Homo sapiens: one gene and its partner. The protein of the gene in region 1 interacts with the protein of each later gene in a pairwise test. Each region holds a gene or a part of one and is shown on either strand. Other genes may lie near its edges. The genes, in order: CNRIP1 and GCH1.

Region 1 (3,828 bases):
CATATCAGTAGTTGGTTCATTTTATTTCTGGGTAGCATATTATGTTGTGTGGATATACCATAATTTCTCCCTTTACCAATAAATGGACATCTGGGTTGTTTTCAGCTTTTGCTATTATGAATAAAGCTGCTGTGAACATTTGAGTATAAGTCTCAGTGTGAACATATTTTCATTTCTCTTGAGTAAATACCTAAGAGGACAATTGCTAAATCACATGGTAAGTATGTGTTTATCTGTGTAAGAAATATCCACACTGTTGTACCATTTTGTATATCCACCAGCAGTGTATGAGAATTCTAGTTGCTTTACATACTCAATGTATGTCTTTTTAATTTGGAAATTCCAAAGACATAGAAGACCCAAAACAATCTTGTTTGATCTATATTGTAGTCCTTAAAACAGGTAGCATAAATCTTCTAGCTTTGTTTATTCTAAGTTCTTTTGCTTAATCTAGGTCCTTTGTGTTTTATATAGATTTTAGAATGAGCTTGTCAATTCCTCCAAAAATTGGGATATAGAGTTTCCATTAAACCTATAGGTCAACTTAAAGATATTTGACATCTTAATATAGAGTTTTCTATACCATGAACATGAAATATCTCTTAGGTCATCTTTAATTTTCTCCACAATATATTACAGTATTTCCTCTACAGACTTTATACATATTTTGTTAAATTTATTATTTCATATTTTTGAATAATGTAAATGGAATCTTTGCTGGTATATGGAAATAAAATCGATTTTTTTTGTATATTGATATTGAATCCTGAGACTTAGCTAATCTCACTAATCCTAATAGCTGTTTTTGGAGGATCCCTAGGATTTTCTAAATATGCTATCATGTCATCTGTAAATAGTTTCTCTTTTCTTTCCAATCTGTATTCATTTTATTTATGGCCTAATTGCAATGGCTAGGACCTTCGCAGTATGCTGCTAAATAGAAATGGTGAGAGTGGACATTCTTGTCCCTCAGTCTGAGAGAGAAAGCATTCTGTTTTTCAATACAAAGTATAGTAGCTGTAAGGTTCTTTATTGTAAATCTTTTTATCAGGTTAAAGGAGTTCTCTTCTATTCCTGGTTTACTGAATGTTTTTTTAATCATGAACGTATTATAACATGTTTTCAAATAGTTTTTCTGTATCTTTTGAAATGATCATAAGGTGTTTTATTCTGTTTATGGTAGATTACCTTGCTTTTTCAAAGTTAAAATAACCTTGAATTCCCAGGTTAAATACCACTGGTCATGGTTTATTCTCGGTATGTAAAACTGGATTTGATTCATTAATATTTTGTTAAGGATTTTTGACATCTATGTTCCGGGGGGGATATTTGTCTATGGTTTGCTTTTCTTATAATGCCTTTGTCTAGTTTTGGGTATCAGAGTAATGCTGGCTACATAAAATGATTCGGAAAGTGTTCATTCTTCTATTTTCTGGAAGAGTTTATATAGAAATGATATTTTTCTTAATGTCAGAATTCACCAATGAAGGCATAGATTATACTTTATTTGAAGATTTTTTATTACAAATTCAATTTCGTTAATAGATATCGGGCTATTCAGGTTTTATTTCCTGAGTTTTTGTAATTTATCTTAGAAGTCATTTATTTCAATTAAATTTTCAACTTTATTCCCATAAAGTTGTTTATAATCTCCGCCATTCTTCAGTGTCTTAGGATCTCTAATAATGTCTACTCTTTTACTCTTTGATCCTTTTCTTTTTTTTTTTTTTTTTTTTTTTCCCCGGAGATGGAGTCTCACTCTGTCTCTCAGGCTGGAGTGCAGTGGTGCAATCTCGGTTTACTGAAACTTCTGCCTCCCAGATTCAGGCAATTCTCCTGCCTCGGCCTCCCAAGTAGCTGGGATTACAGGTGCGCACCACCATACCCAGCTAATTTTTTGTATTTTTAGTAGAGATGGGCTTTTGCCATGTTGGCCAGGCTGGTCTCGAACTCCTGGCCTCACAAGATCCGCCCACCTTGTCCTCTCAAAGGGCTCAGATTACAGGTATGAGCTGCCGCGCCCGACCTACTCTTTCACTCTTGTTATTCAAAATTTTTATTTTTATACCCTCTGATTAGTCTAGCTAGAGATTTCAGTTTTATTGGCCTTTTCAAAATCCTAGCTTTTTTTTTCACATGCTTCACTCTGTTTTTCTACTTCATTGTTTTCTAATCCTATATTTATTCCCTTCCCTTGTTTGCTTTGAAATATTTTAACTTAAGTATAATACATATACAGTAAAATGATCCCTTCATAGAGTTCTTTCTGCTTGTCAGTAGTTTGGTTATGATGCATCTTAACTGGTTTTTCCCCCCTTGGGGATCACTGAATTTCTTGAATCTAGAGGTTAATGTTTTCACCAAAATTGGAGTATTATTAACCATTGTTTTGTTAAATACTTTTTTAATACTTCATTCTCTCCTTTCTTTGTAGGACCCCAACTAAACATATGTTGAAAAGCTTGGTATTATCCCATAAGTCTTTGAGGACATGTTCAATTTTCTTTCTTTTTTTAATGGATCTTCAGATTAGATCATTTCTACTGATGTATCCTTAAGTTCACTGATTCTTCTATTTCTAGTCTTGTGCTTATCTTCTAAATTCTATAACATTTTTTAGCTCTAGAATTTTCATTTGTCTTTTTTATAGTTTCAGTTTCTCAAGATTCCTTATGTTGGCTAATTGAGACCATGTTTTCCTTAATTTATCTGAGCACATTTGTAATTGCTGGTTTGAAGTAGTTAATAAATCCAACACCTGGCTCTAGTTAGAGTAAATTATTACAGCCTGACTTTTTTTTTTTTTAATATGGGTCACACTTTCATGTTTCATTACATGTCTCGTAATTTTTGGCCACAAACTTAACATTGTGGATAGTTTATTACCAACTCTAGTTTCTGCTTTATTCTTCTGGGTATTACTGGTTTTTTGTATTCTAGCTGGCAGTAAACATTCCTGTACTCAAACTTCAAATTCTATCTTCCAGCAGTATGCAGCAGCTGATCTCTTTGCTCAGTTTTTATAACTTCCAGTTGCTGCTTTTCTAGCCTGGTCTCCTTTTGTGCCCATGGAGCTTAGCAGTCAGCCAAGGAACTGGAGAGCTTATACTGAGATTTTTGGATATACCCACCCTGAGGTTCCCCTATTTCTCCAGCTGCTCTATCAATCCAAAACTGTTTTGCTTTATTTGAGATGGAGTTTCACTTTTGTTGCCCAGGCTGGAATGCAGTGGTGCGATCTCAGCTCACTGCAGCCTCCACCTCCCAGGTTCAAGCGATTCTCCTGCCTCAGCCGCCAGAGTAGCTGGGGCTACAGGCGCGTGCCACCACACCTGGCTAATTTTTGTATTTTTATTAGAGACAGGGTTTCACCATGTTGGCCACGCTGGTCTCGAACTCCTGACCTCAAGTGATCCACCTGCCTCGGCCTCCCAAAGTGCTGGGATTACAGGAGTGAGCCACCGTGCCTGGCCAATCCAAAACTCTTTACTCTGATACCTACTTCTGAGGTTAGGGAATGTACTCAAAATACATGCATGCATACATACATACATACATACATACATACGTAAATATAAAGAAGCTATTAATCTTAGCACAACTTTATCTTTCAAGGATTGACTTTTTGCTGGTTTGTCTGCTTTTTCAATGGCCCCTGTAGGGTGTCCATGTCCCACTATCCTTCATATGCAGTTAGCTAGGGATTACAGCAGAGTTTATAGTCAGATTTGGGGTTCTATTCCTTCTGCAGATCTCTTTCTTCCAGGATTTTTCTAGGTTATTTCCAGCTTCTCTGCCAGTCCTGATGCTGTCTTCTGCCACTTCCAA
Region 2 (3,828 bases), on another chromosome or scaffold:
TGGGGTCTTGGACCAACCTGGATGGCAGGGAGAAGGAAGGATACTGGTGGGAGATAGGAGTGAGTGGGAACCCACATCTTTAGGTCCATAAACGCTTCTGCACAATCCCTTTTATTTCTTTAGAGAGCATGAGTCAAGTGGCCACTATATATTGTTTTTGGATAAGAACATACTTCTCTGAAGGTCACTTTTCTGTGCTTGTAAACAGGATACAGGACTTTATATCTTTTATATATCTGTATTCTATATATTAACTCCTGGTTAGTAATGTTGACTTAAGTGTTGTAAAATTTAAAATAAGTTGGTATTTTACATTCTTCAAAATCCATTTTTCCTCCCAGTGCCTCTTGTGTGGATTGATCCAAATTCCTGGCATTCTGGGGAATTTGTTCAGTTTTCCCTACGTTGCAGCGTCTCTCCATGACTGTCTCCTTGTGCACCTTTTCCCTACTTTCCAGTGTGTACCTTCCATGGGAGCATCTGTGGTCATCTGTGACCAGGGTGGTGTCAGGGTTGTATAGGTTTCCTAGTACTATTCCCTACTGGACTGTAGCTCATGGGCTAGGAGGGAGGGCTGGAGGAGACGCTATCATCTCTCCCAGGAACTGGCTGTCCTTTGAATCTACATCACAAGCTGATCCTTGGACCAGCTCAGACCAGCTCGTCTTGATCTATTTCTGTGCCATTTCAGTTTAGCTGTATCCTAGTTCTCTTAAATATTCAAGGTTTTATCTTGGTGAGTTCTCCTTTCTATATAAGGTACCTTTCCTGTATTTCCACTATTCTTTTATTCAGAACCTACACTTAGTTAAATTGGAGAGTCTGCTATTCTCTGAGGGCCTTGATCTTCATGCCCCTGTAACTGACCCTTCCAGGTATACATGGGAACAGCCTTTCAGACAGCATTATCTACCAAGGATTAAATGGGTATAACTTGTTCCATCAGTTGTTTTTTATGAGTTTTTGGGAATATGCAAGAGTCTTGACTCTGTCACATTTCCAGTTAAAGTAGGTTTTAGCTTGTCTGCCAAGACAGTTTTTATAAATCATGTTAACAGTTCAAAATTTTGGGAAGCATGCATATAATCCAGCGTGAGGAGATGGCATTGGAGATGGCTGACTGCTTCCCTGTGAGGGCTGAGGAAGCACAGACACTGGCAGTGAGTCATATCCCCACCTCAGCCATTTTCACTGGAAGATTATGTCTATTCGCTAAAGATAATGGGAGGCAATTAGATACTTTGTTTATACAAAAATGCATCTTAGACACTTCATACTGAAATGTAGCAATCACAAAAGGTTTTTCTTTTTGAATCACAAACCTCTCGGATTTATTAAATTAGACTGCTGTGGTGAACTAAGAATTTTAACAACTTCTAAGATGTGAAGAGGAACAAAAACATAAACTATTTACTATTCTCTCCTATATCATGGGTGAAAGGTGAGTTTATATCCCAAGTTTTAAAGTATATTATAGAAATGCTCTTCTCATCATTAAAAGGTACTATTTTAGATGTGTAGCTCACTCAAATTTTGATCCATTAATAATTTTTGTGCTTGGTTTGTTAATGAACACTTATATAGGACTTAGTTGTGTTCATTGCCAGAAAGAGCACTGTGAATAAAGAAGAAAAAATAACAAGGCACTTTTGACATATTATATGATTGGAATTTTGGACATGTCTAAGTGGAATAAAACAGTTAAGAAGTTACTGAGAAAGGGGGAGAAAAGCCAATCCTAATAGTTTCTTTTAAAAATGGATTATCTATAAACAATTTTTCTGACATGGGAAGAAAAATCAATATACATAACTTCACTATAGCAAGCAAAGCCTTCAGGTTGGTACTCGTACTAGATTCCCAGGGCTGCTATCACACAGTACCGCAAACTAGGTGGTTTAAATGACAGAAATAAACAGTCTCACAGTTCTAGAGACTAAAGTTCCAAAATCAAGGGGTCAGCAGAACCATACTCACTCCAGAACCTGTAGTGGGGGAGGCTGTCCTTGCCTCTTCCCAGCTTCTGGTGGTGGCCGTCAGTTGATGGTGTTCCTTGGTTTGAGCTGCGTCACTCCAGTCGCTGCCTCTGTCAGTGTCCATGTTTTTGTTTTGTCTTATAAGAATGTCAGTCATATGAGGCAGGGTCCACTTTACTCCAGTATGCCTGTGTTAGTTTAGCTAATTACATCTGCAACAACCCTACTTCCAAATAAAGTCACATGCTAAAGATACCTGGGGTTTAGGACTTCAACATATCTTTTTTGGCGAATGGCACAATTCAACTTGTATTAGTACTAAATACTATTATTAAAAAAATTAGTAGGAATTTTACTACAATTTCATTGATCATCAAGTACTACGCACTTCACTGAACGCTGGGAATGCAGGATGAGCAAAACCAGGTATAGTTCCTGCCTTCATGGAACTTACAGCCTAGCAGATAGAATCACATGAAATAGAAATGTGTTGTGAGATTGAGAAATGTGATGATAAACAAAAACACAGCTCAGTGAGAGCACTTGGCATAGGAACTTGACCAATGCCAGGAGATGGGAGCATGAATGGGTGAAGCGATGCTTAAGCCGACTGATGTTCTGAGTAACAAATACTGCTGATGGCTTACTTTGTGCTAAACAGTGAGTTTTTACATGTGTTACCTCATTTGATCCTCACAGTAGCACGATGGGGTAGGCAATATTATTCCCATTTTATACATAAGGAAATTGGGGCACAGAGAGAACTTTCCCAAGACTGTATCTTGAAAGTGGCGGAGCTGAGAGGATGATATAGAAAGAGAATCATTGTAATCTCTGGTAGGTGATTTAATTTTAATAATAATATTTTACTGATTTATTTGAATGATTTCTCCCTTCTTCCTCACCTATCCCCGCTTTTGTATTTTCTCTGCTATTTGCTTTGTCCACCTCTAGAAACCCTTCCATGCCTGGGCATTCCCCACCTGACTCATTTGCCAGTGATTTCTATATGAGGACTGTAATTTGAGTCTAGTATTTGGTTGAGTAGACTGCAGTGTTAAAACTCACCAGGAGAGGGCAACTGTCTAATCATTGGATCCCAGATTATGAATCCTGGATTATGTGAACAATTCTCAGTTCCAGGTTATGCAAACAAATATGTTTCCCATGGTTATAAATTTGCTAGAGTCTATAGTAATTAGATTGGGATATAATTTGTGTTGGGTTATGCAAAGAGTATCTGAACCAAGTTAAATCTGTTATACTCAAGGCCAAGAGGACATTCATTTACTAGAATTTTATTCTATTGGAGCCCATTAGTAGAAATATTTATTTATTTGGAGGCAGAGTCTTGCTCTGTCACCCAGGCTGGAGTGCGGTGGCATGATCTCAGCTCACTGAAACCTCTGCCGCCCAGGTTCAAGCAATTACCCTGCCTCGGCCTCCCGAGTAGCTGGGATTACAGGTGCCCACCACCATGCTCGGCTAATTTTTGTATTTTTAGCAGAGACAGGGTTTCACCATGTTAGCCAGGTTGGTCTCCAAGTCCTAACCTCAAGTGATTGGCCTGTCTCAACCTCCTAGAGTGCTGGGATTACAGGCATGAGCCACCGCACCCGGCCGGAAACATACAATGTTTGTCCTTCATGTCTGGCTTATTTTACTTTGCAAAATGTCTTCAAGGTTCATCCACATTAAAAACATCTATTTTATTTTTATTTTTATTTTTTGAGATAGAGTCTTGCTCTTCCGCCCAGGCTGGAGTGAAGTGGTGTGATCTTGGCTCACTGCAACCTCTGTCCCCTGGGTTCAAGCAATTCTCCTGCCTCAGCCTCCTGAGTAGCTGGGATTA

The links.
Region 2: the proteins of CNRIP1 (region 1) and GCH1 interact in a two-hybrid assay, tested with the Homo sapiens proteins (one study listed by BioGRID and IntAct).

What each region holds. Positions count from the first base shown.
Region 1 is NC_000002.12:68,309,691-68,313,518, reverse strand, and holds part of CNRIP1 (CB1 cannabinoid receptor-interacting protein 1), read left to right. Parts: intron 1-3,828.
Region 2 is NC_000014.9:54,892,567-54,896,394, reverse strand, and holds part of GCH1 (GTP cyclohydrolase 1), read left to right. Parts: intron 1-3,828. UniProt on the Homo sapiens protein: Positively regulates nitric oxide synthesis in umbilical vein endothelial cells (HUVECs). May be involved in dopamine synthesis. May modify pain sensitivity and persistence.